7 separate regions of the Homo sapiens genome follow, and regions 2, 3, 4, 5, 6 and 7 are each reported to be linked to region 1. The links are microRNA targets in miRTarBase. Many come from high-throughput screens and were not tested one by one. Region 1 holds a microRNA gene; each other region holds the end of a gene's coding sequence.

What was found. The annotated mature microRNA hsa-miR-503-5p reads UAGCAGCGGGAACAGUUCUGCAG and lies in region 1 at 1,932-1,954, opposite strand. An mRNA with a match to its seed (bases 2 to 7 or 8) in the 3' UTR can be bound and repressed. Matches are read on the target gene's strand: a 7mer-m8 pairs with bases 2 to 8, a 7mer-A1 pairs with bases 2 to 7 and ends in A, and an 8mer does both.
Region 2: miRTarBase lists DECR1 as a target of hsa-miR-503-5p. Seed matches in the 3' UTR shown: 7mer-A1 at 2,450-2,456.
Region 3: the mRNA of SLC33A1 is a reported target of hsa-miR-503-5p. The part of its 3' UTR that is shown has no 7-base or 8-base seed match.
Region 4: miRTarBase lists NUP50 as a target of hsa-miR-503-5p. Seed matches in the 3' UTR shown: 7mer-A1 at 2,738-2,744.
Region 5: miRTarBase lists ATP6V1B2 as a target of hsa-miR-503-5p. The part of its 3' UTR that is shown has no 7-base or 8-base seed match.
Region 6: the mRNA of UBFD1 is a reported target of hsa-miR-503-5p. The part of its 3' UTR that is shown has no 7-base or 8-base seed match.
Region 7: the mRNA of HCFC2 is a reported target of hsa-miR-503-5p. The part of its 3' UTR that is shown has no 7-base or 8-base seed match.

Annotation. Positions count from the first base shown.
Region 1 is chrX:134,544,440-134,548,520 of GRCh38, forward strand. It overlaps MIR503 (microRNA 503), which reads right to left and starts at 1,959; the gene lies at 1,889-1,959. It overlaps MIR503HG (MIR503 host gene), which reads right to left and starts at 2,191. Exons shown (of 3, transcript NR_024607.1): 1 at 2,113-2,191; 2 at 275-358. MIR424 (microRNA 424) reads right to left here and starts at 2,272; the gene lies at 2,175-2,272.
Region 2 is chr8:90,051,582-90,055,662 of GRCh38, reverse strand. It overlaps DECR1 (2,4-dienoyl-CoA reductase 1), which reads right to left. Exons shown (of 10, transcript NM_001359.2): 9 at 3,924-3,986; 10 at 2,030-3,825. The coding sequence ends at 3,766. Among named protein-coding and RNA genes, the nearest start is that of CALB1, 29 kb to the left of the region's middle.
Region 3 is chr3:155,824,835-155,828,915 of GRCh38, forward strand. SLC33A1 (solute carrier family 33 member 1) reads right to left here. Exons shown (of 6, transcript NM_004733.4): 6 at 1-3,543. The coding sequence ends at 3,376. Among named protein-coding and RNA genes, the nearest start is that of C3orf33, 21 kb to the left of the region's middle.
Region 4 is chr22:45,183,977-45,188,057 of GRCh38, forward strand. It overlaps NUP50 (nucleoporin 50), which reads left to right. Exons shown (of 8, transcript NM_007172.4): 8 at 477-4,041. The coding sequence ends at 679. The region is part of intron 3 of LOC105373064 (a long non-coding RNA gene); the gene reads right to left. Among named protein-coding and RNA genes, the nearest start is that of MIR1249, 15 kb to the right of the region's middle.
Region 5 is chr8:20,220,036-20,224,116 of GRCh38, reverse strand. It overlaps ATP6V1B2 (ATPase H+ transporting V1 subunit B2), which reads right to left. Exons shown (of 14, transcript NM_001693.4): 14 at 2,421-3,854. The coding sequence ends at 3,715. Among named protein-coding and RNA genes, the nearest start is that of ATP6V1B2, 25 kb to the right of the region's middle.
Region 6 is chr16:23,570,226-23,574,306 of GRCh38, reverse strand. It overlaps UBFD1 (ubiquitin family domain containing 1), which reads right to left. Exons shown (of 7, transcript NM_019116.3): 7 at 1-3,827. The coding sequence ends at 3,717. Among named protein-coding and RNA genes, the nearest start is that of UBFD1, 15 kb to the right of the region's middle.
Region 7 is chr12:104,102,784-104,106,783 of GRCh38, reverse strand. It overlaps HCFC2 (host cell factor C2), which reads right to left. Exons shown (of 15, transcript NM_013320.3): 15 at 260-3,825. The coding sequence ends at 3,511. Among named protein-coding and RNA genes, the nearest start is that of NFYB, 33 kb to the left of the region's middle.

The DNA.
Region 1 (4,081 bases):
TGCTTTATTCACATTTTTGTCCTTGGAGGAAAATCTAGGCACACTGCAACTTGGATCGTGTAAATAAAGGTACAAGGAATGTTTTAAGTCAGAAAAGGGCATCACGCAGTCAGGGGGCTGTGTGGACGAGCTCAATTTCGATGCATCTCGGGAGACCCGGGCAAAAGGCCGCTTGGATTCCGGGAGGCAACGCCCCCAAGTCAGGATCCCTTGCTCGCCGCCCCCAACCGGTCAGGATCCCTGGCTCGCGTCCCCAACCGGTTCCGTGTCTCACCTGGGTCCTGCAGGCGTCCACTGGAGGAAGCCGGATGGCGCGGGCTTGGTCTTTCAGGAAGGCTGGCTGGCACCGGGCTTCCTTCTGGCTCCAGGGGGAACCGTACAGGACGGGGAGAAAGGGGGAAGCTGGTGAGAGGCAGAAGGGGCGTCACAAGGTGGCTCTCCCACCCCCAAGTGCAAAGGCAGGCGGATGCGGGGACCTGTTCGCCGTTTGAGCCTGGAGATTGCGGGCCTGAGGGGCCCTGCGCTGGCCGGCCGGGGCGAGGCGGGAGCAGAATGGGGATTTCTAGGCCGCCGGGTCGGGCTGGTGGGCGGCGCCCCGGGAGCCTGAGGGTCCCCGCCGGCCCGGGAGGGACCCGAGCCGCCCCCGCGCACTGCCCCGGCGCAAGGGAGTCTGGGAGAGCCAGCGTCTCGGGCCGCTGAACCCGACTCCCAGCTCTAGACTTCGGAACCCCGGCCCCACCCCAAACTGGGAAACTTCTAGGGGCCCACTCCTGGCCCCGGGAAGCCCAGTTCCAGGCAGCCCATTCAGACCAGAGGAGTTTGGGTGTCTTTTTTTTTTCTTTAAGGTGACAAAAAGTGTGGGAAAGATTCCACACCTCCCTCCCCACGCCCGCCAATGGTCCTTTACCTGTCCATGTTTCAGATTAAATAATTAGCTCAAGAGATTTGCACAGAAAGCGAATTAGCCCTTTTCTAGTCAGACTGTTAAGCTCTCAGGCGGGCAACTCGGAACCCCGTTTCCTCACCGAAGGCTCAGGAGGCCAGCCCAGTGAGGGATGGAGGTGGCTTTAGAGGGCGACAGTTGTGCAGCACTCATGAGCAACAGTGCCCAGGACTTTTGAAGTCACGAAGGGCTCCTGAAATCGACAGCTCAGGTCCCGCCCCTGGGGCGACAAAGGAGTCTTGGGGGCGTGCCGCCGGGTTGGAATTGTGGTAGCAGATTTTTGGGGGAGGAGGGCGCAAAGCAGCTAGAAACGCACATCCTCATTCTGGAACTATCCCAAGGCCCCCATGCTTCTCAGCAGGCCTCGGGCTCAGATTGGGCGGGTTGGAGCCTTCCACCCCACCTTGGGTTCACCCGCCCGCAAGGCCTCGCGCCTCACCCGATCCTTCTAGAGTGCTGGAGCTCCACGGAGCCTCCCTAACCCCCCAGCAGCGGGGAAGGGAGGGCGAGGGAGTGGGGAAGAGGCCCGTTATTTTGATCTTTCCTGAATTCTTAAGTCCCTTCCATACCCAGGACATGAGCGCGTTTACCAGGAACCGCAGAGAGGTGTAAAGACTTCTTGCAGCTGCTCACCCTTCCTCTCCCCTTACTCCTTTTCCAGTCCTCCCCACCCCCCAGCATTTCGTGGGTGGGGACTGAAGATAGGTTTTCTTCGTTGTCCTGTGGGTGGTATTCTGATTGGGAAGGGATTTTTTTCAATTGTTTACATTCTACCTGAGCAGGGAAAGGGGGTGCCAAAATGAAGCATCATTCACGTCCAGTCACATATGCAGAGACGGGGCAAACGTTTGATGCAATCTTGGGTCTCGCTGCTCCCGGGGCCGACACCGCAGGCGATGGCCTAAGACTTACCTGCTGGGTAGGCCCGAACGGCAGTCCCAGACTTACCCTGGCAGCGGAAACAATACCCCAGAGCACCGATCGCTCACTGCAGAACTGTTCCCGCTGCTAGGGCACGGCTGAGCGCGGGCACCGCGTCTCTCCTCGACTCGCACCGCCTATGCGCCCCAGCCTAGCCAGGAATACTGCCCTCCCCGGACTACAGCCCTGCTGCGTGGACAAGGGCGAGGACCCGCCGGAAACAGAGACGCGAGCCCCCGCCCACCTACCTGCTCCTGAGCCGGCCTCGCGGGGAGCGGGCACCTGGTGGCAGGAACACGCGTCCGGCAGACCCCACCTTCTACCTTCCCCACGAGGGGGTATAGCAGCGCCTCACGTTTTGAACCATTTAGAACACTTCAAAACATGAATTGCTGCTGTATCCCCTCGGAGTCAATGAAGGGGGATCGATCTGGGGGTACCTGCGGGTGAATAAAGACTGGATGACTGAAGGAAGCCCCGCCCCACCCCCTGGCAAGGAATAGGGCAAAACTTATGACTAGGCCACTTCACTCCAAGTTAAGGTACTTCTTATAACTTCACCATTTGATTTCCAGGAGCTGCAGGTGGAGCCGAAAGTGTGGCTCTCAATTTTTTCCCCTGAGGATGAATCTTGGAACAACGTAGTGGGTGAAAAGCAGAGCGATGGGGGATACGAATTAGTGTGGAAGAGAATCTAATTACTTCTGAAGGTAGACGAATAAGGTTAAGTAGAGGCAATTGGACATCTGGATCATTCTTGCCAGTTTCAAAGTCTTGGTGAAACTTCTTCCTGCTGCATATTACAAGTCTCATTCATTGTCCCCATTAAAAAAAAACAAAAAACGAAACAAAAAAACAACCTTTATTGGAAATGGACTCAGATGACTGAAAGAAAATAACCAAAACCTCACCGGTAGCTTCAGCTGATTCTTACACTATCGTTGCGACATATACATCTATCTTTAAAAGCATTAGATGTCCTAACTCACTGCTAGTGTTTTTATTCTTAAACACCCCAGCTGAGTTATTTTAAAGAGCTCCAAACAATGACAGAGAACTTTCTGTAGATGAAATACCAGTTTACATATTAAACTGGTTACTCAAACTTATTTATAATTTATACCTATCAATGTCATCTATCAAAACATAAATCAAAAAGTTTAAATACTTGATGTCAAGTCGCTCCTTCCTGTTTCAAGCAGCTCCACAGAAACTTTCATGTCCTGAAATGGCCGGCACTGCGCATACTCCTTAATGATTAACTCATTAGATACCACTTTTTCCTTTTTAAAATGGACACATATTAGCAACAAGTCACATGCATGCCCTCTTTTTGTTTGAATACAATATTCAATTAAGCATTAAAAAAAAAACCCACTCTGAAATCCTCAATCACAAACCTAAAAGTTAAAACAACAAAATCAGCACTAACTGTAATGGTTTTGAAAGTTAAATACATTTCAGCACAAGTAATAGACATTTAAATTATCCAACTGTAAGTATCTTGTTACACTTACAAATTAAGTCGGTTTTTCAAAACCAGTACAATGAATGTTAAGTGTCCTATTTATTAGTTAATAAAATGTGCAGAGTATTTAATAAGATTAAGTATCGAATTTATAACATCCAGACTGAGATCCAGTGGTAACAAATACACTATGTCATGGTAAAAAAAAAAAGTCATTAGTAACAATAACCCCATTCCCTAAATTGCGACAATCAAGTATCTCTACATTCCATCTTGTTTTGGCAATGATATTTACAAACAACTTTTACACTGACTTTGGGATTAATGGAGAAAAATGTCGTTGACTGCCCTTAAAAAGAAAAAAAAAACATGTTTAGCAAATGTACAATTATCATGTAAAACTCCACAACTTTCTCCCAACATTTTGTTCCACACAAATATACGAGCCATCATGTCAGAAGTTAAAGTCATGCCTAATTTAACATTTCCTTAGTTGACTACTTAGAAAAACAAAAGTTCATTCGAAACAGCATCGGTGTCAAAGGCGAAGGTCCCTTCCAGATTGCTCTTGGAATCAAATTCATTTATACCTTTCACCCTAACCCCTTTCATCTCTCCCAGTGATAGTACAACGAGTTACACCCCTAAAAAGCCACCTCGATCCCCTAGTTTACATATTTCCCCTTAGACTGAAATTTACTTACGAAAAGAGATTACAAAGGGGCGTCTTGTCACTTCAGGAGAGGGTC
Region 2 (4,081 bases), not on the chromosome of region 1:
GAATTTGCATTTTCTAAGGCTTTTCTAGCTCTAAAATTCTATTATTCAAAGTCATTAAATTCTTATTGTTTTAGTTTCCACAAGAACAATAAGGAAACAATGGCTGTCACTCTATACCTGAAACATTTCCTGGAGGTGGTTTCACATGTTAATGGTAAGATGAGTGATATTGTTACCAATAATCTTTAATTTACTGAGTATTAACTCTTCCACTAGTACAATAGAAGCAGGACTCTTACAGAAGGTATTGAGTGACAAAGTAATAATTCTTAAGGTGAACATTGATGTGGTTACAGCCCACATGTGGTCTGTCATAGAATACAGTGATTACCCATAAACAATGTTTGTTTCTCTTTCAGACTCAGGAAAAAATATCTGTTAGTCAATATCTCCATGATCTCTCTTCTCTGATCCTCTCTGCCATGCTGCAAGCTTTGCTTTCTCATCAACCATTTGTAATAACACATAATAATGATGTAATAGATGACTAAGAAACTATTAAAAGAACTATTTTTGTCTTTAACAGAGGAAAAAATTGCATACAAACTCATACAAACCAAAAATTTTACAATACCCCATTAAGATACCAACAGGTAAAAAAGACAAACAGGAAATTCAAAAGTGTAGAAAAGTATTCAATCTCACTAATAATAAAATAAGTTTTTAACGGTACTATCATTCGTTACGTGTAAAATTGGTGAATAGTTTTAATTGTTGGCAGCTATTTGTTGAAACGGGCAGTGTCACACATTACTCAGGGGGGTTTAAACTCACACAAATCTTTGGAATAACAATTGGATATGTATATCAAAAAAACTTTAAAAGCTTCATAACTTTGATTAATAATACCACTTCTAGAAATGAGGAAAAAATTCCAAATTCTAAAAATGTGTTATACATAAAAACGTTCATAGTTTTATTTATAATACTGAAAAATAAAAGTAACCTGTGATCTCACTTATGTATGGCATCAAATAAAGTTGAACTCATGGAAGTAGAAAGTAGAATGATGATTGGCCGGGCACGGTGGCTCACGCCTGTAATCCCAGCACTTTGGGAGGCCTAGGCAGGCGGATCACCTGAGGTCAGGAGTTCGAGACCAGCCTGGCTAACATGGTGAAACCTTGTTTCTACTAAAACTACGAAAAATTAGCCGGGCATGGTGACGTGCACCTATAATCCCAGCTACTCAGGAGGCTGAGGCAGGAGAATCGCTTGAACCCGGGAGGTGGAGGCTGCGGTGAGCCAAGATCATGCCACTGCACTCCAGTTTGGGCAACAAGAGTGAGACACCATATCAAAAAAAAAAAAAAAAGAAAAGAAAAGAAAGTAGACCGATGGTTTACTAGAGGTTGAGGGAGTGGGAAGAAGGGGGTTTCTGATCAAAGCATACAAAATTTCAGATAGAAAGAACAGGTTTTAAGATCTACTGCAGGGTGACTATAGTCAATAATAATGTACTGTATATTTAAAAATAACTAATAAAAGTAAATTTCAAATGTCTCTCCATAAAGGCCAATAGGTAAGAGAGGTGATAGATATGTTAATTAGCTTGATTTAATCATTCCACATTGTATACACATATCAAAACATCACACTGTACCCCTTAAATGTACAGGGCACCCCATAAATGAATTCAATTATGATTTGCCAATCAAAAGTAATATTAATAATAATTTTAAAATGCATTGGCAAGGGAGGCATTAGCATTCTTGAAAAACATTAAAAAACAAAAAATTTTCAACAGCCAGGCTCAGTGGCTCATGCCTGTAACCCCAGCACTTTGGGAGGCCAACGCAGGAGGATCACTTGAGATCTGAAGTTCAAGACCAGACTGATAAAGATAGCAAGACATTGTCTCTATAAAAATTTAAAAAGATAAAAACAATAAATATAAATAACCCTATTCCCAATAAATTAAATAATGATACATCAAAACAATAGAACACTAAAAATAATATTTATCTAAAAAAGGACCTGATTTATCATGTAATCTGAATTTTTTTTTTAAAAAAGGTTGAGACAACACTGGAAAAAAATAATATTTATTAAGTTATATAAATGTAAACATTTAGTATAAATTTAACCAGAAAGAGAAATATGGCTATACTGGTGGAATCAGTGGAGGGAAAGAGTGTGTCTTTGTGTGTTTGGTGAGAGGTGGGTGGGAAGGTGGGTTTGGAAATGGAGTGAGTGATAAACCATCATTATTGGTGTGTGAACACAATATCAACACAATAGTGTGATAGTGAATAAGTCTCACGAGATCTGATGGTTTTATAAATGGGAGTTCCCCTGCACAAGCTCTCTTGGGTGCCACCACGTAAGACATGACTTTGCTCCTCACTCACCTTCTGCCATGATTGTGAGGCCTCCCTAGCCATGCTGAACTATGAGTCAATGAAACCTCTTTCTTTTATAAATTACCCAGTTTGGGTTATGTCTTTATTAGCAGCATGAGAACAGACTAATACACAGGATTAGTACTAAAGGTAAAATGGAGACTAGGTACCTGTCTGCGTTTTATTTTGAGAGTATTGTATTGCAAGCATGTGGAGAAAAAGTGCAACAGCCTAAAAAAAAGCCCAGTGAAAGTCAGTATAATTGGAAATGTTGGGCCACTTATTCCAAACCTATAACATCCCCTATATATACACAATTAAATGTAATAAATGTAATTTATGTACACAATTAACTGTCAATGTTAATTGGGGTTTCCATGGGCTTGTGGCAGATTTATTCAGATGAGGTAAGATGGAAGCTGGTTTCCTCTTGTGTCAACTTGGGCAATGGGGATAGTCAGTCTAGTGAACATGTTGTAACTGACTCCTGGGAAAGCAAAATGGACATTTTAAAAATATAGGCTCAAAAGTATAGCTCTGTAGACTTGAGACTTTGGATTCATTATTATTTGATTTTCAGGATGACAAATTAGTCAAACCAAAGATGAAATTTAATCAAATGATATACAAAAATATTTTATAGGCTTTCTTTACCTCTTTTACCCAGAGAAATCTATTCTTCTTTTACAGCTGGGATGGCATGCTATCTCTTAGGCATCACATTCTCCAAACTCTGGAGACAGAATGAATTACTTCCTCCTCTACACTTAAATACTGCTGGAATAATACTTATCACAATGTATCATAAATAATTATTTATAAGTTTGACTATCTTGCTAGATAATGAATTTAAAAAGGGCAACGGCTATAGCTTATTCAGTACTAAATAAAATGCCTGGCTACAAATAGGTCCTAGTAAAAATTAAAGGTTTGAGTTAATACTGAGTTACCCAAAGAAGATAATTCACAAGTCCAGTGAAAAGAAAGTATACTGGAAAGGCAAAGTCTATTATATTTAGTGTGTATCCTCTAATTTCTTTCTTTTAGGCCCTATTAATATAGGTATAGTATATTATGTAACTCAAATGCTACCGCCACCATTGAGTTTCTCCTGATTTTCCAAGTCACAAAGATCTGTTCTCTCTGCACTTCTAAGTACTTTTTACCTCTATCAATAGGTAAAGAGGAGCCTTTACCTACTCTCCCCATGCCTCCTTTTTTTTTTTTTAATGTTTTGAAGGACTATATTTCATTTTATTTATCTTTGAATATACAATGGCTATCACTGGCCTGGCACATAATACATATTCAATGAATGTTTGTTAATTAAGAATTTATTAGACTTGAAATAGTCAAAAGATGAGAGATAATTTGTTTCATTTCTATTCCCTTTTCTGTAACCAAGATGAAGGCCAAAGTGGTCTTAGGAACCTTTTGTCTTCCTGATGAGTTCTTCTATGGTGTCCCACTGCTCCTTGGTGACCTAACACAAAAAAGATGTCAATTTAATGTCCTTTTTACATGTTTTTAAAGCTTAGTATCCTAGCTGCTGATATTACATTATACACACAAAAGCATTACCTTTCTCAGGTCGTTGAATTCCCCTGAAATAAGTACTTCCTCTCCACCGTCAAATTTAATGACCTGGAAAAAACAAATTTTTAAACTCTGAAACTAACTCCTTTTAAAAAGTTTCTGAACCACTAGCCATTTTCCCATACTAATTGGATGGAATATCT
Region 3 (4,081 bases), not on the chromosome of region 1:
AAATCCAAAAATTACTTTCGATTTCAAAGGTTTAATATTTTTAAAAAATTGAGAAATCTATTTAAGGTGTTGAATAAACTTTTTATGACTTATCAGGCAAAATTAAAATATTTATCATGGGCAGGGCACGGTGGCTTACACCTGTAATCCCAGCATTTTGAGAGGTCAAGGCTGGACGACTGCTTGAAGCTATGAGATTGGGACTAGCCTGGAAAATATAGCGGACCCCACCTCTATAAAAAATTATTATTTTTTATTAGCTGGGCATAGTGCTGTGTGCCTGTAGTCCTAGCTACCAGAGAGGCTGAGGTGGAAAGATCCTTTTTTGTTGTTGAGACAGGGTCTCACTCTGTCACCCAGACAGGAATGTAGTACCACAATCACTGCTTACTGAAGCCTTGACCTCCTGGGTTCAAGTAACCCTCCCGCCTAAGCTTCCCAAGTAGCTGGGACTACTGGTGTGTACCACCATGCCTGGATAATTAAAAAAAAAAAAGAAGTCATAAAGACAGGTTCTTATTATATTGACCAGGTTGGTCTTGAACTCTTGACCTCAAGTGATCCTCCTGCCTTGGCCTCCTAAAGTGTTGTGATTACAGGTGTGAGCCACAGCATCCAGCCTAAGGAAGATCCCTTGAGCCTAGGAATTTGAGGCTGCAGTGAGCTATGATTGCATCACTGTACTCCAGCTTGGGCAAAAGTGAGACCATGTCTCTAAAAAATAATAATAAAATAAAATAAAGTATTTACAATGGAAGGAATCTGTGGTGTTACTTTTAGGTAATCTCAGAAGAACTTTTCAAACTCAGATGTATATATGCGGCAACCAATGTGCATATGGAGATACTGACATAGAGAGAAAAATGTTCAATCTAATATTAGCCAGTAAACATATGATGCATTAACTGGAGGAGTTAAAAGTCCATACTTGAAGGTACTGTTTAATTTATCAGGATCAATCAATCAAGAAAAACACCCACAACATAAAAACAGGGTGGTATATTTTAGTACTACTGATTTATAATAAACAGATCCTCAGATTTAGGCAGATCATTTTTAAATGCCATTAGTGATCAATGTATGCAACACAGTTGCACATAGCTATTAACAAGTTATTTTGACATGCATTACATACATGTATTCAAATTAACTATAATTTTTTGTGCTTATTTCTAGAGCAAATTAATTAAATGGCTTTCACCTTAAAGGCTTAAAATGTTTTAAAACTTCAAGTCATTAAAGATGTACTGACATTAAAACTATGTTTGAAGGCTGGGCGCAGTGGCTCATGCCTGTAATCCCAGCACTTTGGGAGGCCGAGGCGGGTGGATCACTTGAGGTCAGGAGTTCAAGACCAGCCTGGCCAACATGGTGAAACCCCATCTCTACTAAAAATACAAAAATTAGCCGGGTGTGGTGGTGTGCGCCTGTAGTCCCAGCTACTCAGAGGACTGGGGCAGGAGAATCACTTGAACCCAGGAGGCAGAGGTTGCAGTGAGCCGAGATTGCACCACTGTACTCCAGCCTGGGTGACAAAGTGAGACTCTGTCTCAATTAAAAAAAAAAAAAACTATGTTTGAAAGTATATATAATTTGTAATAATATACACGGGAAGAAATAAAAGGTTATTATGGCAATCTGAGTTTCTTAATCCAAAAATTAAAAATCAAAACACATTTCATATGTAAGAGTTAAGTGGTTTTTTTTCTTTATTCAAGTAATCATTTAGACTCTAATACATGATAATGGACAACCATGTGACAAAGTACTGTAGTGTATGGTTTGGTGTAGCCTCCTTGCCTCTAGGATGGGATTTTTTCCAGGTGATTCTTCAGGATCTGACATCGATGCCCAACACAGGCTTTCCAATGGCAATGCATGAGTTCTAGAGGTCACTGCCCCATCTTTCTTCAGGTGCTGTGTGCCATTTTCTCCCACCCATTTTATCCTCCATTACTTATAAAAACCCCACTCTAAAATTCAACCTATGTTATAAAATTAACAAAATCAGGAGTTAGTACACATTTTTCCACAATGATAAAATTAAGACTCATAATGTACTATCTTGTTTCGTCTAACTTTTGGAGGATTTATATAATCTCTAAAGAGTCAGAGTAATACATAACACAAAACATGCAAAGAACCTTATCACTGGGTGTATGTAATACGCTGGGAATTGCTAAAGTACTCAAAAGCTTAATTTTCTTGGAATAGCAACTGTCCACTGAAAACTATAGTATTCAAACAAAAGGTTATGTGTTAATACATGAAAATACAGTACCTGATTTGGCATAAATTGTGAGATCTTTTTCACTAGTAAAGTGCTTAATTAAGAAACATTTTTCCACTATTAGATTTAATTTGTCAAAGGCACAAAATATCTTTGTCTCTCTCTTTAAAGTATTAGTTTTTTAAATTATGGTACTGCCCATTTAAATTTTACTTAATCAGAAAGCTTTACTGTTTTTTTCTCTCAGCAATTAAAAAAAAACTACTTGAAGAAAAACATTTAATTTTTATTTTCAAAATGTTGCCATAAACATACATACAACACTGAATTTGATCCCCTCCATTGGCTGTCTGTGTGCCAGGAAGCACTTGTGACAGAAAACATATATAAGCTTAGGGTAAAAGTTTATAAGGAATCAAAATATCTTCCAAAAAGAGGGGGTAGGGGCAAGAGGAATCAATAAGTTTAAAAATCATAACTTTCATTTTATAAAAAATAGTTTGAATAATTTTCTTATAAATCTTTAATGCTTACAAAAGCAGGAAATACATTTAAAATAGTCTTTTTAACACAGATTCATTTGTACAATGTGGTCATAAGAAAAATAACTAAAATGACATTTCAGTAGTCTATATTCTTTTCTCAGCAAATTCCACATAAAATTTAACTAATTTACAATTCAAAATAAGATTTTAACTGCCAACAATGTCAGACTAGTTGTGGTTAGTACCTGAATATCAAGCTCTTCTCCATTTTATATATTGTACCAAAATTTTAAATACAGCTCAGCAGTGATAGGTACTAATAACAATACCTGACTACATGGTTACCACCCGTGACTACTGCATTGCAGCTTAAAACATGCTTTGGTCAGTAAATTTAAAAGATATACATCAAATAACAAGGCCAGAAAAGTTGTTTTAGAATTTCCTGACCTTAAGTAAACTTTAAATACATTGACAAGGCAAAAAAAAAATATGATCAAATATACAGAAAGGTTTCTATTTTTTCAACCATTTGGCATTTTATATTATTAATTTCGCTGTTTAAAATAATATTTTATACTCCTGTGCACTGATTATCATTGCTCTCCGAATTAAAACTAAACTACAATTACCTTGCTAGAATGTCCAGTAGCATATATATTAATTGTTCCTTTTGCATTTCCACGAAGATGATCCTTCATCCTGTAACTTTTTAAATTTTGGACCAAGAAAGAACCACCAACCAAATCCAATGAAAACACAAATAATGGACTCCACATAATAACCATCCAGGGCTGTAACACATGAGCCACCCAGTTTTTTGCAAAGCTGTAAAAATAAAACTATAATAAATACTCCACAATTTCAAAATGAAAGTATTTAGCAATTAACATGCTTCTACTTTATAAAGAATAAAAATATATTTTTCTTAAAACATTTCAGTATTTCACTGAATTCCAATGACAAAATATGTTAATGTATCTTAATCTCTCTAATGCTACTAACAGGATTAAAAACAATTTTCAGTTCTTGCTGTAAACAATACTCATTTTCTTTTTTGAGACACGGTCTCACTTGTGGCCCCGGCTGAAATGCAGTGGTGTGATAATGGCTCACTGCGGTCTCTGGCTCCTGGGCTCAAGCAATCCTCCCACCTCAGCCTTGTGAGTAGATAAGACCACAGGCGTGCACCACCATGCCCCATTAATTTCTACATTTTTTGTAGAGATGGTGCTTCACCATGTGGCCCAGGGTGGTCTTGAACTCCTGGGCTCAAGCAATCTGCCTGCTTCAGCCTCTCAAAATGCTGGAATTACGGGTGTGAGCCACCATACCCAGCCGAATATGTTTTTTTTTTTTTTTTTTT
Region 4 (4,081 bases), not on the chromosome of region 1:
TTGCAGAAACTCCAGGGAGGCATTTTTCTTTCCCGTGGGCTTGACTAGGGAGTAATAACATGGTCGTGTCACTTTTGCCCAGGGAGCTGTGCCGGCCTGTGACAGAGGTGTCCTTTGTCCGTGTGGCGCAGTGAAGACACTGGGTTGTGCCACCGTGTTCTTCCTTCAGTGCAAAGACGGACAGTGTTGAGAGGGCTGACGGTTCTGAGCGAGGCTGCTGGCTCTGAGAGAAACGCTGTGTGGGTGCAGAGACCCGGGCTGGAGGGAGGACGGAAGGCCACTCCTCACAGTGAGGGCAAGTGCTCCCCGAGGCCTCCCAGTTCTCAGGGAACCAGTCCTGATTTTGTGCTGTCCTGTTGGCTCCCTGTCTTAGATGTATTAAGTTATTTCAGCATTTAATGTTTAGCATATTACAGACTCCTTTGGTGGAGCTATAGCTTCTATAATTTTGATGGGTTTTGTTTGTTTGAATGCAGGCAACATATTGCTGAACGTTCTGATTCCACCCAATATGCCATGTACGCGAACAGGGAAGAATAACGTTCTTATCGTCTGTGTTCCAAATCCACCAATTGACGAGAAGAATGCCACCATGCCAGTCACCATGTTGATTCGGGTAAAAACCAGCGAGGATGCAGACGAGTTGCACAAAATTTTACTGGAGAAAAAGGATGCCTGAACACGCAAAGTCGGCTGCAGAATTATTGCCAAGTTGCTGCTGCTTCCACCGCCCCTTAAAGTTAGTCAGTTTTTCTTCTCTTCTTTGACATTCTAAGAACTTATAGATAACTTAAAACTTTTGTGAGGAAGATTAATGTGGCCAATAAAACCTTTAAATGTTAAGTGTCAAGAAACTGCACTCTCCCTTCTTAAGAACTGCCTAAAGTGTAAAATACATTTGAATGCAATTTTTGGAAGATTTTTTAATGTTCGTTTATTAAACTAACCCTAAGTGATTTCTTCAAGGACTGCAATCAGGGTATCAATTTGCTTTCCCAAAGGCTCTTCCAACCCGTGGGTTTTGGGGTCCACCGCCACCACGAGAGAGGCTTTTGAACAGGTGCCTGGCTGTGTTCAGAAGGAAGCTGGCCTGTGTGCTTCTCTCCGGTGGGCTCAGCCGACGTGTGAGACTTGTTCTGTTACCAAATGAACCGGGCTGCCACGCTGTGACAGGCGTTTGTCCTCTGCTTTATTTTTACTTTGAAGCTCAAATGCGAGTACTAAGTGTTCACCTCAGCGTTCGAATCATTGGCCTGTAACCCTGTGGGCTGCTTCACGAGAATTCAGGACCTGCATTTTCATTCTAAAAAGAAATGAACAGCTTGTGAAGGAGTTTTTTGGCTTCATAGTTTCTATTCATGAGGTAGTGTTACTTCTTTATCCCCCTAAAGACAAAATGAAGATAAAGGGGGATTGCCAGGAATGGGTTTAAAAGCACAAATGTGGTAGCTTATCATCTACACCATGGAGAGTGAACCCTTACGAAATGAAAGTCAAATGAGACCATCCGAGAAAAAGATGCGCATAGGCATTTGTACCATGATCAACCCCACGCACATGAAAACTGTGACCAAGTGACGTGCCTGGGAGCTTTGACACACGAGCCGTGTGAATTCACTAGGAAACATGTAATAAAGTCATGGAAGAGAAAATCGTGTGTAAACTTTGCCTTTAACTTTAGACCGCAGTATATTATAATACATTTGATATCTGAAATATCTTTACTTTTTTAAGAGTAAGATTCCATATGTCTGTCTGGAAGGGAGCCATGGTTATTCACACGAATATCCCTGTCACTTCTCCAGAGGTGTCAGGTAACTAACACGAGCATTCTTTGAAGACTCTGGGCACATGAATGATACACAGAATTGAATGTTTAAATTTCCACTGAGTCCTCATGAATCATTTGAGACTAGTACCAGCTGATCTTGTGTACAGGCTCAGGGTCAGTGCCCAAGGGCTCCCGCGTGTGTGTTCTGATCTTCAGTGCGTAGCACATTCTCCATTTAGAAAAGAGTGGTCAGAATAATTGTGGACGGTACAGTGGCTTTTTAAAACTACAGTCTTTAGGTGTAAGGTTTGGCGCCGGGAGCAATTTTATGATCAAATATGATGAACTCCTAAGTCACTGAGGTGTGATTGGGCCAATGTTGGCATGAGGTTCTTGCTCTACTTCCAGTGTTTTGATTCCACTGGGAGAATTTGGCCTAGTGTGTGGCTTTGGATGAATCCGTGTAGAGAGAGGTGAGCTTGTCCTGTTACAGATGCTGTCAGACATAGCGATAGTAGGCACCTAGGGAGGAAGTGGCCGTTAGTTTTACACTGACTTTTTAAGAATGGAGAATGCACGTGGGTTTCTGTTGCGGATGATTCATAGTAAGCAAGCGGTTGATGCTGTTAATACCGGCCCCACCCGATTGACATTAAGTTTATTCAGCTTTTAAAAAGATGAAGAACTAAGGGGAACAAATTTAAGTTTGTTGCAACTTAGCCACACATGCTTCCCTGGTACCAGCTGGAATCAGCAGCTCACAGGCATCTTCAGGACACTTCAGTGTATATGACACAGTACTTTGTTAGCGTCTGCGTGTGTATGGAAAGTTGACAAAAAATGGCATGAAAAGATCATGATTGGATTTTCTTTTAAACCTGCCCTTCTGTAAAAAATAGTTTATATATTTTTAAATTAGTAGGTATGTGTGGCTTCCTTTTTTCCTAACATTCCCAGCAAATTTTTGCTGCTAAGACTATCACTGTTAAAGTGAAAATTACAGGGAAAAATGTGATGAATATACCGTAACTCAAAATGTGATATTTTCTTAAAATCACTCTTTTATGCTTTAGGAACTGGTTGGTCTCCACTTTGATTATTAGTGTAAAGAGCCTGAGTATACGTGGATTTCATTGTAAAATTTAACTCCTTGTCTTTTACTTGGGGCACGGGGCCCCTGGAGGGCTTCCCTACTTTCCCCACTATGTTAACAGGTAATTCTGATTTATGCGTTTAGTTTGACTTATTTTTAACAAAATATTAGAAGTTATGCTTTAAAATGTTTAATGTGGACTGAAATTTTCATCTTTTGTTTGAGAATCTATGAAGTGTATCATATACGTGGCCTAAAGCAAGGTGTGTATTTTGTTATTCTGAAATTGTTTTGCATCTGGACAAATACTAAATATCCCAGTGGCCTTTTTTTTTTTTTTTTTAAAACCTGTGTATCCATCTCATCCTTTTGCGCATTCCTAGTAAGCAAAAAAATTTGTTATGCCATCTTCATTATTCGAATTACAGACTGAAAAAATATGGCCAGTTTTTAAAGAAGTTTAGATTATGTTTTCCATGGAAGGACAAGTCTGACTGTTCATAGGCTGATTTTCTTTAAGAGGATTATTCTGTTTTACAATTTCAATTCTAGATCACATTTTATATATGCTGCATGCCAAAAAAAAAAAAAAGAGAAAACTGCCTTTTCTGGTGTGGAGGGGAAGAAAAACTAATATTCTACCTTACTAGTAGAGTTCAAAACAAGTTTTCACTGAGAGCCTTTTCAGTAAAAGTTAAACAAGTTTGTTTTTTGAGCATTTGTCAGTTATTCTATTTCAGAAGAGTCAAAATTCAAGCACGATACATTTTGAAGGCTTTGCAAACTCCTAAACCCCTGATGAGTCCTCTCATTCTGGAAGTGGGAATTTGAGTAGATACTGATTTGTCCCGTAGTATGGCAGATGACAGGGAGGTCTTTTCCAAGCAGGCACTCAGAACACAGGTCACCGTATGTTCTCAGCCAGTAACAATCATACTGAGGACGAAGGACTCTCCGTTTGATGCAGACACAATTGTAATGGAGATGTAAAACTTCTTAGCAATCAGATGGATAAATTGTTTGCTTTTTACTTTAAATAGGAAATTGTTTTCTAAAACTAAAATACTTGAATTGTCAGACAATATAATCTCAGCTTGTATTAGTTTTTGAATGCTCCCATCGAGGAAGTGTAACAATCCATGAAATGTGAATAAATGAAAAGTAAACAAAATCCCAATGTGTGAGTCTTATGTTCCTCTGTGATGCACTTGGCATTA
Region 5 (4,081 bases), not on the chromosome of region 1:
AGGGCTCCTTACACCGATTTCAGTTTATTTTTATCAGAGCATGTTCCCTTACAGTCCCCAGGCTAACATGCAGCCCCAAAAAAAGCACTATTTGATTCAGTGAACTGTTGACTGCCAGTCACTGATCCGGAAGTGTCTGTTTCTAGAACTCAGTGTTTAGCCACTGCCACACCATTCAGGGGCTGCTGCCCTCTTGTGGAAATGAAGAATACGACTGCTTAGAAAAGAAATTAGATGCATTTGGAGGCTATTGTCTGTACACACATTCCCATCTTACCTTCCCCTAAAAGCTTAACATTTTAGTGTGAGCCCTAAGCTTAACTTTTTAGTGTGAGCCCTGAAGTTCCTAGGTCCAGACAGTCAGGGCCTTTGGTTTACATTCACGCTACCATTCTGTCCACCAGGATATGGAACTTTAGCCACAATACAAAATCCTGGTTTCTAGCGAGATTGACATTTGTGAAGACCATTTTGATGTGTGGAGTGGCCTTTGGATGTTAACATTGTGCTGTGGGAAGAGCACTAGCCCACGCTTAAAGACCCAGGTTCCAGCTCGTGTTCTGCCATTCCCTTGTGACCCTGGACGAGTCATTTTCCAGTTGCATCTGTGGATAAAGGGCTACATGACCACTGGTACCTGGAACGCTGTAATTTATTGGATTTAGAAAATGCTCTAGGAGTTTAGAGATGAAATTCTGTGGAGAACAGTGGCATATCACATGTGCACTACTTGTAGCTGCTAACCACAGCAAACAGCCACGGGCTTGATTCTAGGTTAGGCACCCTCAGGCTCCTACAAAGGAGACCTAGGCATTGTTCATGTGTGCCTCAGCCTCAGGGATAGCCATGGTCAGATGCTTTGCTTTTCCCTTAAGTAGAAATGTGGCAGACTGTTCAGGGAGGGTCCCACAATTCCTAGCCTTCACACGTGTCTGAAAAACACTTACTAAGTTTTCTGGACGAGTTTTGCCACTAGCTCAGGATACAAAGCTCTGTGACCCATTAGTGACTGGAAGTGATTTCTCATTGTTTCCAAATATCAGTCACCCGCTCCTTGTTACCACTGCAGGGCTTCATATGGAGGAGGGGGCAGCTGGGGACACCACAAGGTTTGCCTGAGTGTGAGGCAGGTGTTCAACCCCAAACTGGAAAAATGGCTTGAAATAAAACTACAGTTGGTAGCTGAGTAAGGAACATGACTGTTTCATTTTAAAAAAACCCACTTCCTTCTTAAGTTTTCCCACAAAGGATAATTTTCCCTCAAGAACTGCCTTGCCAAGTATTTCTTGTTGTAGTCTCTAAATGCTATTTTAAATGTAGTCTGGGGAACTATTTTCCGTTGGCTCCTAATACTGAATTAAGCTAACTTGCCCTTATGATAGTAACAAAAAATTTCAAGAGCAGAGGATGCTTTGTTGACCTCAGACGATTTGTACCCTCACACTTGCTGAAAATAAAACATCTTAGCGAGGTATTTATGACATTAGTCTGAAAACATTTTTTCACTTACATGAAATCTTACACAATGAAGTGGCAGTCAACTGCAAGAATAAATGCCGAATGAGTCATTTTAGTTAGCCTGACCTTTGAGGACACTTGGCTTCGTAGCAGGTCTTTTCATTAGGTCTTATTCTGGTATAAAAAGGCTCCTTCAGAAAATGTTTTCACTAAAAAATAAGTTACAAACTAACAAGAGTGCTATATAACCAACAATTCCTAAGTATTATGTAACAGTAATAAGGCAAATTCATCTTAAAAAAGGTTTACTAGTAACAGTGGCCTGCTATGGACCAGGCACTGTCCTAGTGTTTTACACACAAAAATCTCCAGTCCTTACAACAACCCTAAAAGGCATACAAGCAGACAAGCAGACTCGAATTTGTTGAATGATTAAGCAAGGCCATATAGTACTGGTAGAATCCGAAAGAGAACTCAGGTCTACCCAGTTCTTCTTATGATTAAGCTTTTTCCTCTCCATCTCCTGAAAGCTGCCTTGAACTGGAGTGGGGAGAAATGGGAGGCTCCATGACAGCATGCCCTGTGCTTTCACCAGGTTTCTATATATACAGGACATCCATGTGAGATTTTATGTGAAACAGGTTTTGGCTTGCTTCAAGCTGTATTTCACTATTTAGCACCCTCTTTTGCTCACAGCAGATGGGCTCTAGAGGTCCTGACTAGGCCTGAAATGAGGAACGCTGGGGAGCACCTGTAGGAATGCTCAGCCCTGGATCAAACTACAGCATGCTGTAAGGGACAGTACCAAAAAGAATGACAAGGGCAGTGTGGAAGCCATGTCCCTGCAACACAAGGGCTGGTTCCCAATCCTGGTTATGATGCTCAGAGCTGTGAATTGAAGAGATGTGTGATTACATATTTGCTTGTTGCTTTCCTCGTTAGAAGATAGAGAGTCACTTTAGTTAAGGTCCATTTAATTTAACATTTATTTTCATTTTATATCCAGATGTCACATTTTCTACATTAAAATATAATCATGCTGACTCCCCCAACCCCCAGCCCTCAGAGAAAAAAGTGAAGAACTTTACACAACATGAAAGATGGAATGCACGGGGTAGGGAAGTTGCTATTGCACCCAAGTAACAAAGAACACAGAGAGACCAACAGGACGCATGGCAGAACTGCATAGAAGATCGCTCAGGGCTCACGTCAGGAAGGCGCAGGAATTCAGAAAACTCTAAAGCTTGGAAATGCTATCGTTTGTGCCACAAAGATTACCCTGAAAAGGTAGAGAGAGGTCAAAAAGCAGAACCAAATTGGGGATTTTCAAAGGCTGCTCTCTAACAGAGTTTAAAATATCCGTAAACATAAGTGCTTCTGCTCCCTCCCCTTGCCTTCAGCATCTGGTAAACACTTTAGAAACTTAAACCACTGTTAGCATGTCAGAATGTAGAAAGGCTGTAGGTTTTTCTTTCTTCTCATCTTGTACCCCAAACAACAACTCTACTGGCAATTGTAATCATGTGACTCCTCTGCTTGGAAACCCAGTAAGGATCACCAAGACAAGGGGTCTCACTGCTACCAGACAGATACCAGCTGTGCAAAAAGTTGCAGGATTCTGTGTATTATTTGGAGAGGGAGAGCTGTAAGACACAGGAATCCCAATACGTAAGTACTAAAGAGAAAAAGAAAACTCCTTTCACTCATCTATTCATTATATAGGAAAGAGCAAAAAGACAGTCAAAACCATCTGCTTCGAGCAGCAGCACAGCCCAGCAATACAGGCATACCAACAAACCGAAAGCAAACACTCAGGAAAGAGCCTCTTGGCCCTTCTCAAAGGAGACTTCTCTCAGACTGGATCTTGCCCCTAATGTAGAGACCAAAGCATTATAACTTCAGAGACTGGTACTCTTGAGGGAGTTGAGAGGTAAGGTCTAAGAGACCCAAATAACAAGACTGTTATCAGGTAACTAACTACTCCACTATGTACAATACATACAGCAATAAGAAAACGCCACTCCATCCCTGCAGCACTTTAAACATAGCACTGAGGACCCAGGTAGGGGGATATTTTAAGGTCTGTTAGCAGTTTAAAACGTTGCAACACTGGCACAATATGTTACCTATTCTTTGTTTTTAATTACAGGGTAACATGGTAAACTCCAACACAAAGGTGGGAACCGAGAGTGCAAAAGGAATAAAGAAAACAGAACCAGTATTTCACAAGAGCGCGGAGCAATGCAGAAGCAGCAGCTAATGCTTTGCAGAGTCTCGAGGGTAAAATTCGCTGAGGGTGCTCTGAGGGATTCTCTTCAGCATTTCTTTGGGGAAGATTCGGAGTAGCTGCCAGCCAATGTCCAAAGTCTCAAAGACAGTGCGATTTTCGTAAGGACCTTAAAAAATTGAGATTGAATTAATAAATGCAAATGACTTCCAACTTAGCAGTGTTATCCAGTATGTATTGTTATATGACTAGCAGTGTATTAAATAGATATTGAAAAAAAAAAGTTGGGACTCCCAAGACTAAATGAGAAGGACTGAGGAAAAGAAGGCACAGACAGTGAGTATCATAAGGAACCAGAGAAGAGGGAAGAGGCGGCTGGGCTGAGACAGGGAGCAG
Region 6 (4,081 bases), not on the chromosome of region 1:
ATCCAGCAGTGCAAATCTAATAGACTAAATACGTTCATCTCCTCCCAAACAGGCATTTGATTTGAAAACAGAAACCAGAACAGAGCATACACCACAAGGAAACATGGTACTTACAAATATTGTCAAATAATTCAGCAGAACTCTTTAAGAAAAAAAAAAGGTTCTTAGAAATTGAGAAAGCAGTAGAACCACCCAGCCTGGCAGATCAATCTACCAGATGTTCTGCATGCGAGAGGGCTCCCAACCACCTGTAACTTCAGAAAGGCCGCCAGGCACTATTACGAAGGAAACAGGTGCAGATCCTAACTGGAGATGACTTTATCACAAAGCCTTAAGACAAAGGGACCATCCTCTTCCAAGACAACAGGTGTGAACAGAGGCAAGGAGCGAGAGGAGAGGGCTCCCTCAGCAGATGGGTGGAAAGCAAGCCTGCCCTTGCACGGCCCTTGGCACACTCAATCTACCCCCTTTCCCTTCTCTGCCCCTGGCAAAGAAAGGCTGGGCAAGTGCAAGAGCCCAGAATGGCTCCTCCAGGCACATGGTTAAAGTAAGAGTAAGAGGAAAACAAGCCCCTTCTGGGTGAAATATGGCAACTTTTCTGAGACATGGCAACGAGGCAGAGTTAATCTCTTTGGCCCTCATCAGGTAAAGCAGCAACTAAGGAGCCTACTCAGGGCCTTACGTGGGCCCCTTCTATGTCCACAAGAAAGTGCATCCTTAGCTCAGTTCAACATTTAAAAAGAGCTAACGCTACTTGCAAAAGGCCCACCATGGATTCAAACACTTAATACCAAAGAGGTCCAGCAACTCGCGAGTCTGTCTGTGTTCTGTGATCTGAAGCAGAGCTAAGGGGGGCCTGGCTCACAGGGTCACGCTCTTCTGCCAAGGCGCCTCAGGGAGGGAAAAAAAGGCATGATGATGTCTGTGAGCCAGAACCTGCAGGAGGACCACCGGTAGAGATTCTAGAAGACAAAGAAGCCCTCAGGAGGCTCTGAGAGGTGTCCAATGTCTAAGAGACGGCCACCCCCTCCATCTCTAGCTTCGAGTCAACGCTGTTACAGTCACTCTCCGGAAACCAGCTCTTCCTTTATCCACCTGCACGGCCCCTGCCACAGTGAGGGAAAGATCTGGTCCCTCTGACAGTAAGGAAATTGTATAGAAATTATCCTGAGGAAAAAAAAAACCACTGTGACGCTACCTAAAAGAAAGAGTATTTCAATTTGCTTACACAGATTTAGTCAGTACACTCCAGACTGTAAGAAATGTATGAAGAGACTGCTTACGGAACTCAAAGACTAAACAGTGAATACTACTGTGGCCCAGACACGGATCGAAAACACTTCTCCCAGTGGCTTCTGGTGCTATGTCTGCTCTCCCGAGAGCGTCCAGCAAGGTCTTCCATGCAGACAGGGTGAGGAGCCACAGAGCTCAAGATTGTTGAAGCTGATTTAGTGAGCTCTGTAAAGCAATACTCAAACAGCTCCGTACGAAAAGGTGTCATTTACATTATTATTTATATATAGTATCTCGAAGTAAGGAAAAAAGCACCATTTTACTGAAAATAAAAAGGCTCACGCAGGCTTTGGTCCTCCTGAAATGACACCAGCCTGAGTGAGAAGCAGTTGGCCCTTGGGGAGCGGGGAGATGATGGAACGCTGTCACCGGCAAGAAGGGAGGCCAAGTGGCCCGGCAAGCCACAAGAATGGGGCAATAAGGGGAGCAGGTGGAGGGGCCTCGGAGAGCAGCCAGGCTAGTCTGGGGATGGAGCCACCTGCTCTGAGAGATCAAAAGTAGGTGTGCGGCACTGTCAGGACAAGTCTCTAGGACTGGGGCATTGGCAAACAAAAGGGGCAATGTCTGACCCGAGATGATGTTCTACTTAATGCATCTCATTTCCCCCAAAACCTGTCACCTGCAGACAGAGGCTTGGACAAGTAGCTCAGATGTACTCTTTTCCCCAGGAACTGCAGGCCGACAAGGACAGAAAAGCTGCAATGACTGCTCCTTTCTCAAGGGATGAAAAAACAGGCTGTTTCTTGGATGCTGCACTTCACAAATGTACTAATTGCCCCCAAAAAAGCAAAGAGTAGATTTTCCTGCCTAGATGCATCACTTGGCATTGACTACACCATGGAAAGCAAGAGTCTGTCTATGTGGGCTGGATTCCTGAACTACAGCTTAGAAGGGAAGGGCGTAGAATATCATCATTAACTGGCTCACAAGGAATAGTCATCTTGGGCGAACACATGCTAATACGTTTCACAGAATGAGGGGTGACAGCCTAGAATCCAAAATGTGATGTTTGGAACATTTCTCGCCAAACCTTACTATGAAAGCCTGCAACCAGTGAGAGGAGAACTGCAAAGACGGCAGCAGAGAAACAGCAAACAGCACAAAAGAGATAATTTACCAAGAGACTTTCCCTCCTTTCAGAGGCAACCAAGCCAGAAGGAGATGACAGAAGTTCACGTGTACAGAGAACAGAAGGGCTAAAACCAGAAGAAGGTGAGCTAATCATGAAAGCAATTTATCCCATTTTTGTTGTTCAATAACACTGGCCAACCTGCTAGGGTCAGATGTCTTCTTCAGAAAGGCAGCATCTCTGAACCTGGGATAAAGGACACTTGAACTGAATGCATGAGCAGAAGGACCCAATGGAGAAGCATAATTGAAATCATCCTTGGACTGCTTAAGAATTTCTTGAAAACTTCCAAAGAAAGAAGGTTATCTGGATCTGCAGCTATATGGCTGTATAACTATCTTCTACCTGGCTCCTCCTGGAAGAGGTCTTTGTCTGCTTGGGAGCTGGGGCTGTTGAGCGGCACAGCCCAGGCACAACCATGCCAGGCTGGGCCTCTAGGCCAAGCTCAGTGAGGGGTGCAGACAATCATCCAACCAGCAATGGAACTCCTTGGAGATGGGGGCCCAAAGGGCAAGACATTTAAACAGGAGTCACTGGGAGATACTCTGCTGCTCAACGAACACCACAGCAAGTGTGAGAGCTCCTTGCCCAAGACTGAGCAGCTCTTCCTCTCCCACCGTGCGTTCACAGGCAGCAGCAGCACGGCGGGAGGGAGCCCAGGAAAGGAAGCGTTGATGAGGTACCAAAAGAAGAACTGACATCTTTGGGTTCTTAAAACAAAAACTCAAATTGAGGAAGCGAGAGAATGAAAAAGGGAAAGAATTAAATCTGAATCAATGGACAGAAATATGTGGCTTACTAACCCACCCCCATTTTGCATACAATTTTATACAAAAAAGGAAAAAAAAAACACCCCAACTCATTGCAATGCAGTCCAAATGTTTGCAACCAAAGATGTATGAAAATATTTCAATTGAAACTGCTTTTTTTTTTTTTAAAAAAAACAAAGCTTTTGATCATTCCCTTGTCAACATAATTGGCAGATCTACTCTCAAACACACTTAAGAGTATTCCACACAACATGTTCGGAATTCAGATTTATTGATTTCCATCGTATTGACTTTAAAAATGGTATGAAGCTGACTGCAAGAAAGGGAACTGGTAATTTTAAGTTAAAATTAAGCTAATGGTGAAAGTACATCACCTCTGGCTTCAGTCACCACATCACCTCAGATTGAATATAGATTTTTTATGAACAAAGTTCCAGAACTCTGAAATCCAGGGATGCTGCAGGCCTCTCCCGGCAATGTCCTTCACTTTGGGTCAGTCTCCTGGGCCAGAGGTGAAAGTGCTTTCAAAAATACTGCCATTTCCCCAGCACAGTGTCTTTGATTGCATCCACATATTGAGTTGGAACCCAGTACACCCAGTAGTAAGAGGCTTCCGTGGGGCCCAACTGAAACGCCTGGAAGGGAAAAAGGAAAACCAAGCGGTACTTCAGAGGTCGGGAGACCAAGCAGGCAGGACAAACATGGGTGAGGGTTGGGATGTGAGTTAATTAAAAAGGGAAGAAAAACCAAACAAAACTTTGCACGTGGGGAGCATTCTCCCAACCAAAAACAAAAACAGGCAGGCTGAGGGTTAAGCTGAGCCAACCCTAAAGCAGCAGTTCTCAAACCTGAGTGGTCATCAGAGCCATCCGGGGGGCTTGCTGGAACA
Region 7 (4,000 bases), not on the chromosome of region 1:
TAAAAACAAGTTTTTAAACACAATCCATTCTTAATTTAAAGGCTGCCTATATTATTTCAAACAATACAGGCAGCCTTTTAAATATATGTTTAACAATTATTAAACTTGTTAATTATTAAATATTAATTATTAAACATGTTAATATATGTTTAATATGTTTACATAATGTTATTTTAAATATAAAATCAACATTTCTACAGATTTACTCTGCCATCACTAACTTTTCTTTCATATCCTTCAAAATAAATAACACCTGTAATTGTTTATAGTAGAAAAGGTGCTTTATTTTACATATCATTGGTACACGATACATAAAACTGCCTAAAATCAGTCTTGAAAAACACAACAGTCAGTCAGTTACACCTTAAAGGGTCAAAGACCAAGTCTATTTTGCAAGCTACTTCATTTATGATCAAATGACTACAATAATTTTAAATACTAATAATGTCTTCATATCCAATGTTACAAATGATTTTTGTTACAAGGGCTGTAATTTTTTAAAATAAAAATATCTTTAGCTATAGACCTTATTTCTAATCAGAATGAATCTTTGCTAGTCTACAAGTCTTTGAAATAATAGATCAACAATTTCACCTTCCTATAGATAATTGTATTTATGTAATTGGGTAATGAGGCAGGAGTCCTTCATACATGCAATCAGATTATTTCAATTTTTTAAAAAATGCAGATAAAATTGAGTTTATATATACCCTATGTCTAATTAAGTTGCCAAAGAAGTTTATTAAACTAAAATGAAGCCAATATGATATTTTAGAAAACATAATTCTGAGAGCATGCAACATCAAAAATATTTTTACTACTTATGAGAGCCAGAGTTGCAGAACACAGAAGAGGACTGGCACAAAGTCTTGTTATATTTGAACTGCTTACCTGACTGGGAAGAGTAAAGAAAGTCATTTAACTCAGTGCAAATCCTATGAAAAATATCTGCATGATACAGCCTACTGCTACACAAAGGGATCTTCATTTAGAAAATGTGCAAATCATAAGAAGCTAAATGCACTTCTCTTGCTATTTGCTCCAATTCATTCTATTCATCAGCACACAGCTCTAAGATCTCTTATTAACTACTAATGTCAAAGCCACAGAGATTTCTTAATGGCATTTTTTAGTCAGCAATCCCTTATCACAGAGATAAATATGACTGGTGCTTAATGTACAAATGCCAAAAAAAAAAAAAAAATAGAATCTGGGCTAAGTCTCAGGGCAAAAACATTTATGATTTTAACAAATCCCTCAGTATAGAAAGACTTCTCTTCCCTCTAAACAGTTAAGTCATATGTTAGAACCACAGGTTCAGAATCACCTCCTGATCCAGAAGAGTGGAGGCTTAACTGAATCAAATACTAAACAGGTATAAATGTGCACACTCAAACAAATATTCTATCCTTTGCTTAAAATCAACTTATTCCTTGTTATCAGGAGAAGGGCTTCAAGATGCACGTTGTTAATTAATGCAGAGAAGAAAGGGTTAAAAGCCAAACTTTTTCTATTAAAGCAATAGATCTTTAAAATAACTGGGCTTGAAACATATACTTTTAGTATAACTTTCCATTCATATTCTTTTATAATTAAGTATACACATATACACAACAAACCCTAATATTTAATATGTGCAAAATTGCTTACCATGTATTTTAACTTTGGTTAAGTATTTGTTTAGCCTATATCAGATACATTACAGAAGCTAGACAAATGATTACAAACATAATAATGAGGTAAGTTAAAATTCTACTAGTGCAAAAAGCAAGCATATGCCAAAAGCAAAGCATATGAATTAAACAAATGCAGAATGAAGCTCTCACCAAGGGCATTGCTGGGATAACAAACCAGAGAAGCTCCTTGTAAACATTGTAAAGTACACATTTAAAGAGTAAAGATTCATACAGCCACAAAAAAGGTATTCTAACAACACCATAGTAGTGCATTTATTTTATCTTTAGAGTTTGGAAACCACTCATTATGTGTCTAACAATTTGCATATTTTCTTCAAGAGAAACTTAATTAGTGAGACACATTAATTACAAATACTGTAGTATAAAAATCCCAGTTCTTTACAAAAATTATATATTAAAATATTCTATACACTTTAAATTAGTAACTGGAACACACATATATATCAATTCTGCACAATTAAATCCATCTTTGCTGGGGGGTATCATACATGAAATTTGAGGACATAGCTACTCAGTCAACCTAAACTGGCATAAGGTTATGTGGTATAAAAAAAGATAGACCTGTGCCCCTGCAGTTATTGAAGCTCTTAGTTTGAAATATCTTTTCTGCAATTATTGCTCTGTATATTAATTCCAGATTTAAATAGGCAGTGGAACCATGAAATTCCTAAAAGGTTTAAAACAAGTTACCTGTAGCAGAGTGTTTATAATGCCTATCTGTATCTTTAAGGTTGTAATGGAACCTGAGTTAGCTGTCTAATGCTTATATTTTCATAGTAAAAAAGTTTATACAATTTCAAGGTAAAAACAATGCAAAAATAAAACATTTAGAGCATTTACAAAAATCTTACAAATGTTTAAAACACTATTTTAAAACTTGTGTCCTGTTAAGGTGCTTGTTTTTTTCTCCAATAGGAGGACATATACTTTAATTTTGAATTCAATTATGAAGATTTTAATTTTAGCAAAAGCAAAATTAGAGCCATTAAGACAGATGAAAATGTTCAGGGACATACTTCACTTCTACTAAAAACACAAAACCTTAGTGCTGAAAGGGACCTAAAAGATAAACTGCTTTAACTCCCTCATCTGTTATGAGGAAAATGAGGGCCAGATAAGTTAAGTGCTTTGGCCAAAAATATATTCAAATATATTGGCCTGGTAAGAATCAAGAAAACTCATTGTTCTTGTTGTATTTTACCATGATTCTTGGAAAATAATAAAAGTTCAAAAGCAGTTTCTAAACTTGCCTCTTTTTTAATTTCTTAAGCTCTGTGCTAACTGTAAACAAAGAAAGGAATCAAATAACTATTAGAATTATTATAGTATCACACATATTATCCAATAGAAGACAGTTGTTAGAGGAACACTGCTCATATAGAATAAAGATAGAAGGAGTACTCAAAGGTAGGACATTTACAATGTAGAGAACATTTACTATATAAGACAGCATAGTATACAACAGCCAGTTACCAGAATCATCTCAATAACTCTAGGATGACTGGGTTACACAGCCCTTATAAAAGATATTGGGGTAATAAAGCTTTCTAGCTTTTATCTTAATTTCACTGTTTTTCTTTATAAAAGAGCTATATCTGTAAGGAAGAACTCATATACTAATTTTCAGAGAGTCTTTGCTTCTTTTCTTTTATTTGGATCTATAATTCAGCAAATACATTTTAAGAACAATTTACAAACTCAAGTTCATAACTGCTGGAAATACAGCCAGAGAATACTCTTTTAAATGACAAATCTTCATAACCAGTTACTAATAAATAATCATCATCACAATAGCTTCAGTAAAAAAACCAATTCAATTTAAAGGTGCTTTCTTATTGTTACCTTGAAGCCACCGAACTTGTGTAGCTGGTCCATATCCCTTTTCATTCTTTGCTGATATCCTGAACACAATGGCAGGCCTGGATGTATAATCAATATGTGCATTTGCAAGTTGCCCAGCAGTTACTATACATGATGTCTTAAGACCACAATAAATCCTCATGAACACAAGTTGACTTGGATTATCTTGTATCTGTGCTGTGCGGATAGCCAAGTAGGCTGAATATTCCAAAATATTTCCAGAAGGTGAGGTTGGAGGTTCCCAGGAAAGGTGGATACCTTCAACATTCTTGAAGGGGGGGGGAAAAAACAGGTTAAAGGTTCTTAAGTTTCCTCTGTTATCACTTATTATGTTGAGTCTATCTTTAGAATACAAAATGTTCATTTTTACTAAAATAATTGCATTAGATGTTACATCTTTTATTGTTGATTTTTAAAACCTACCTCATTTGGATCTACAATGT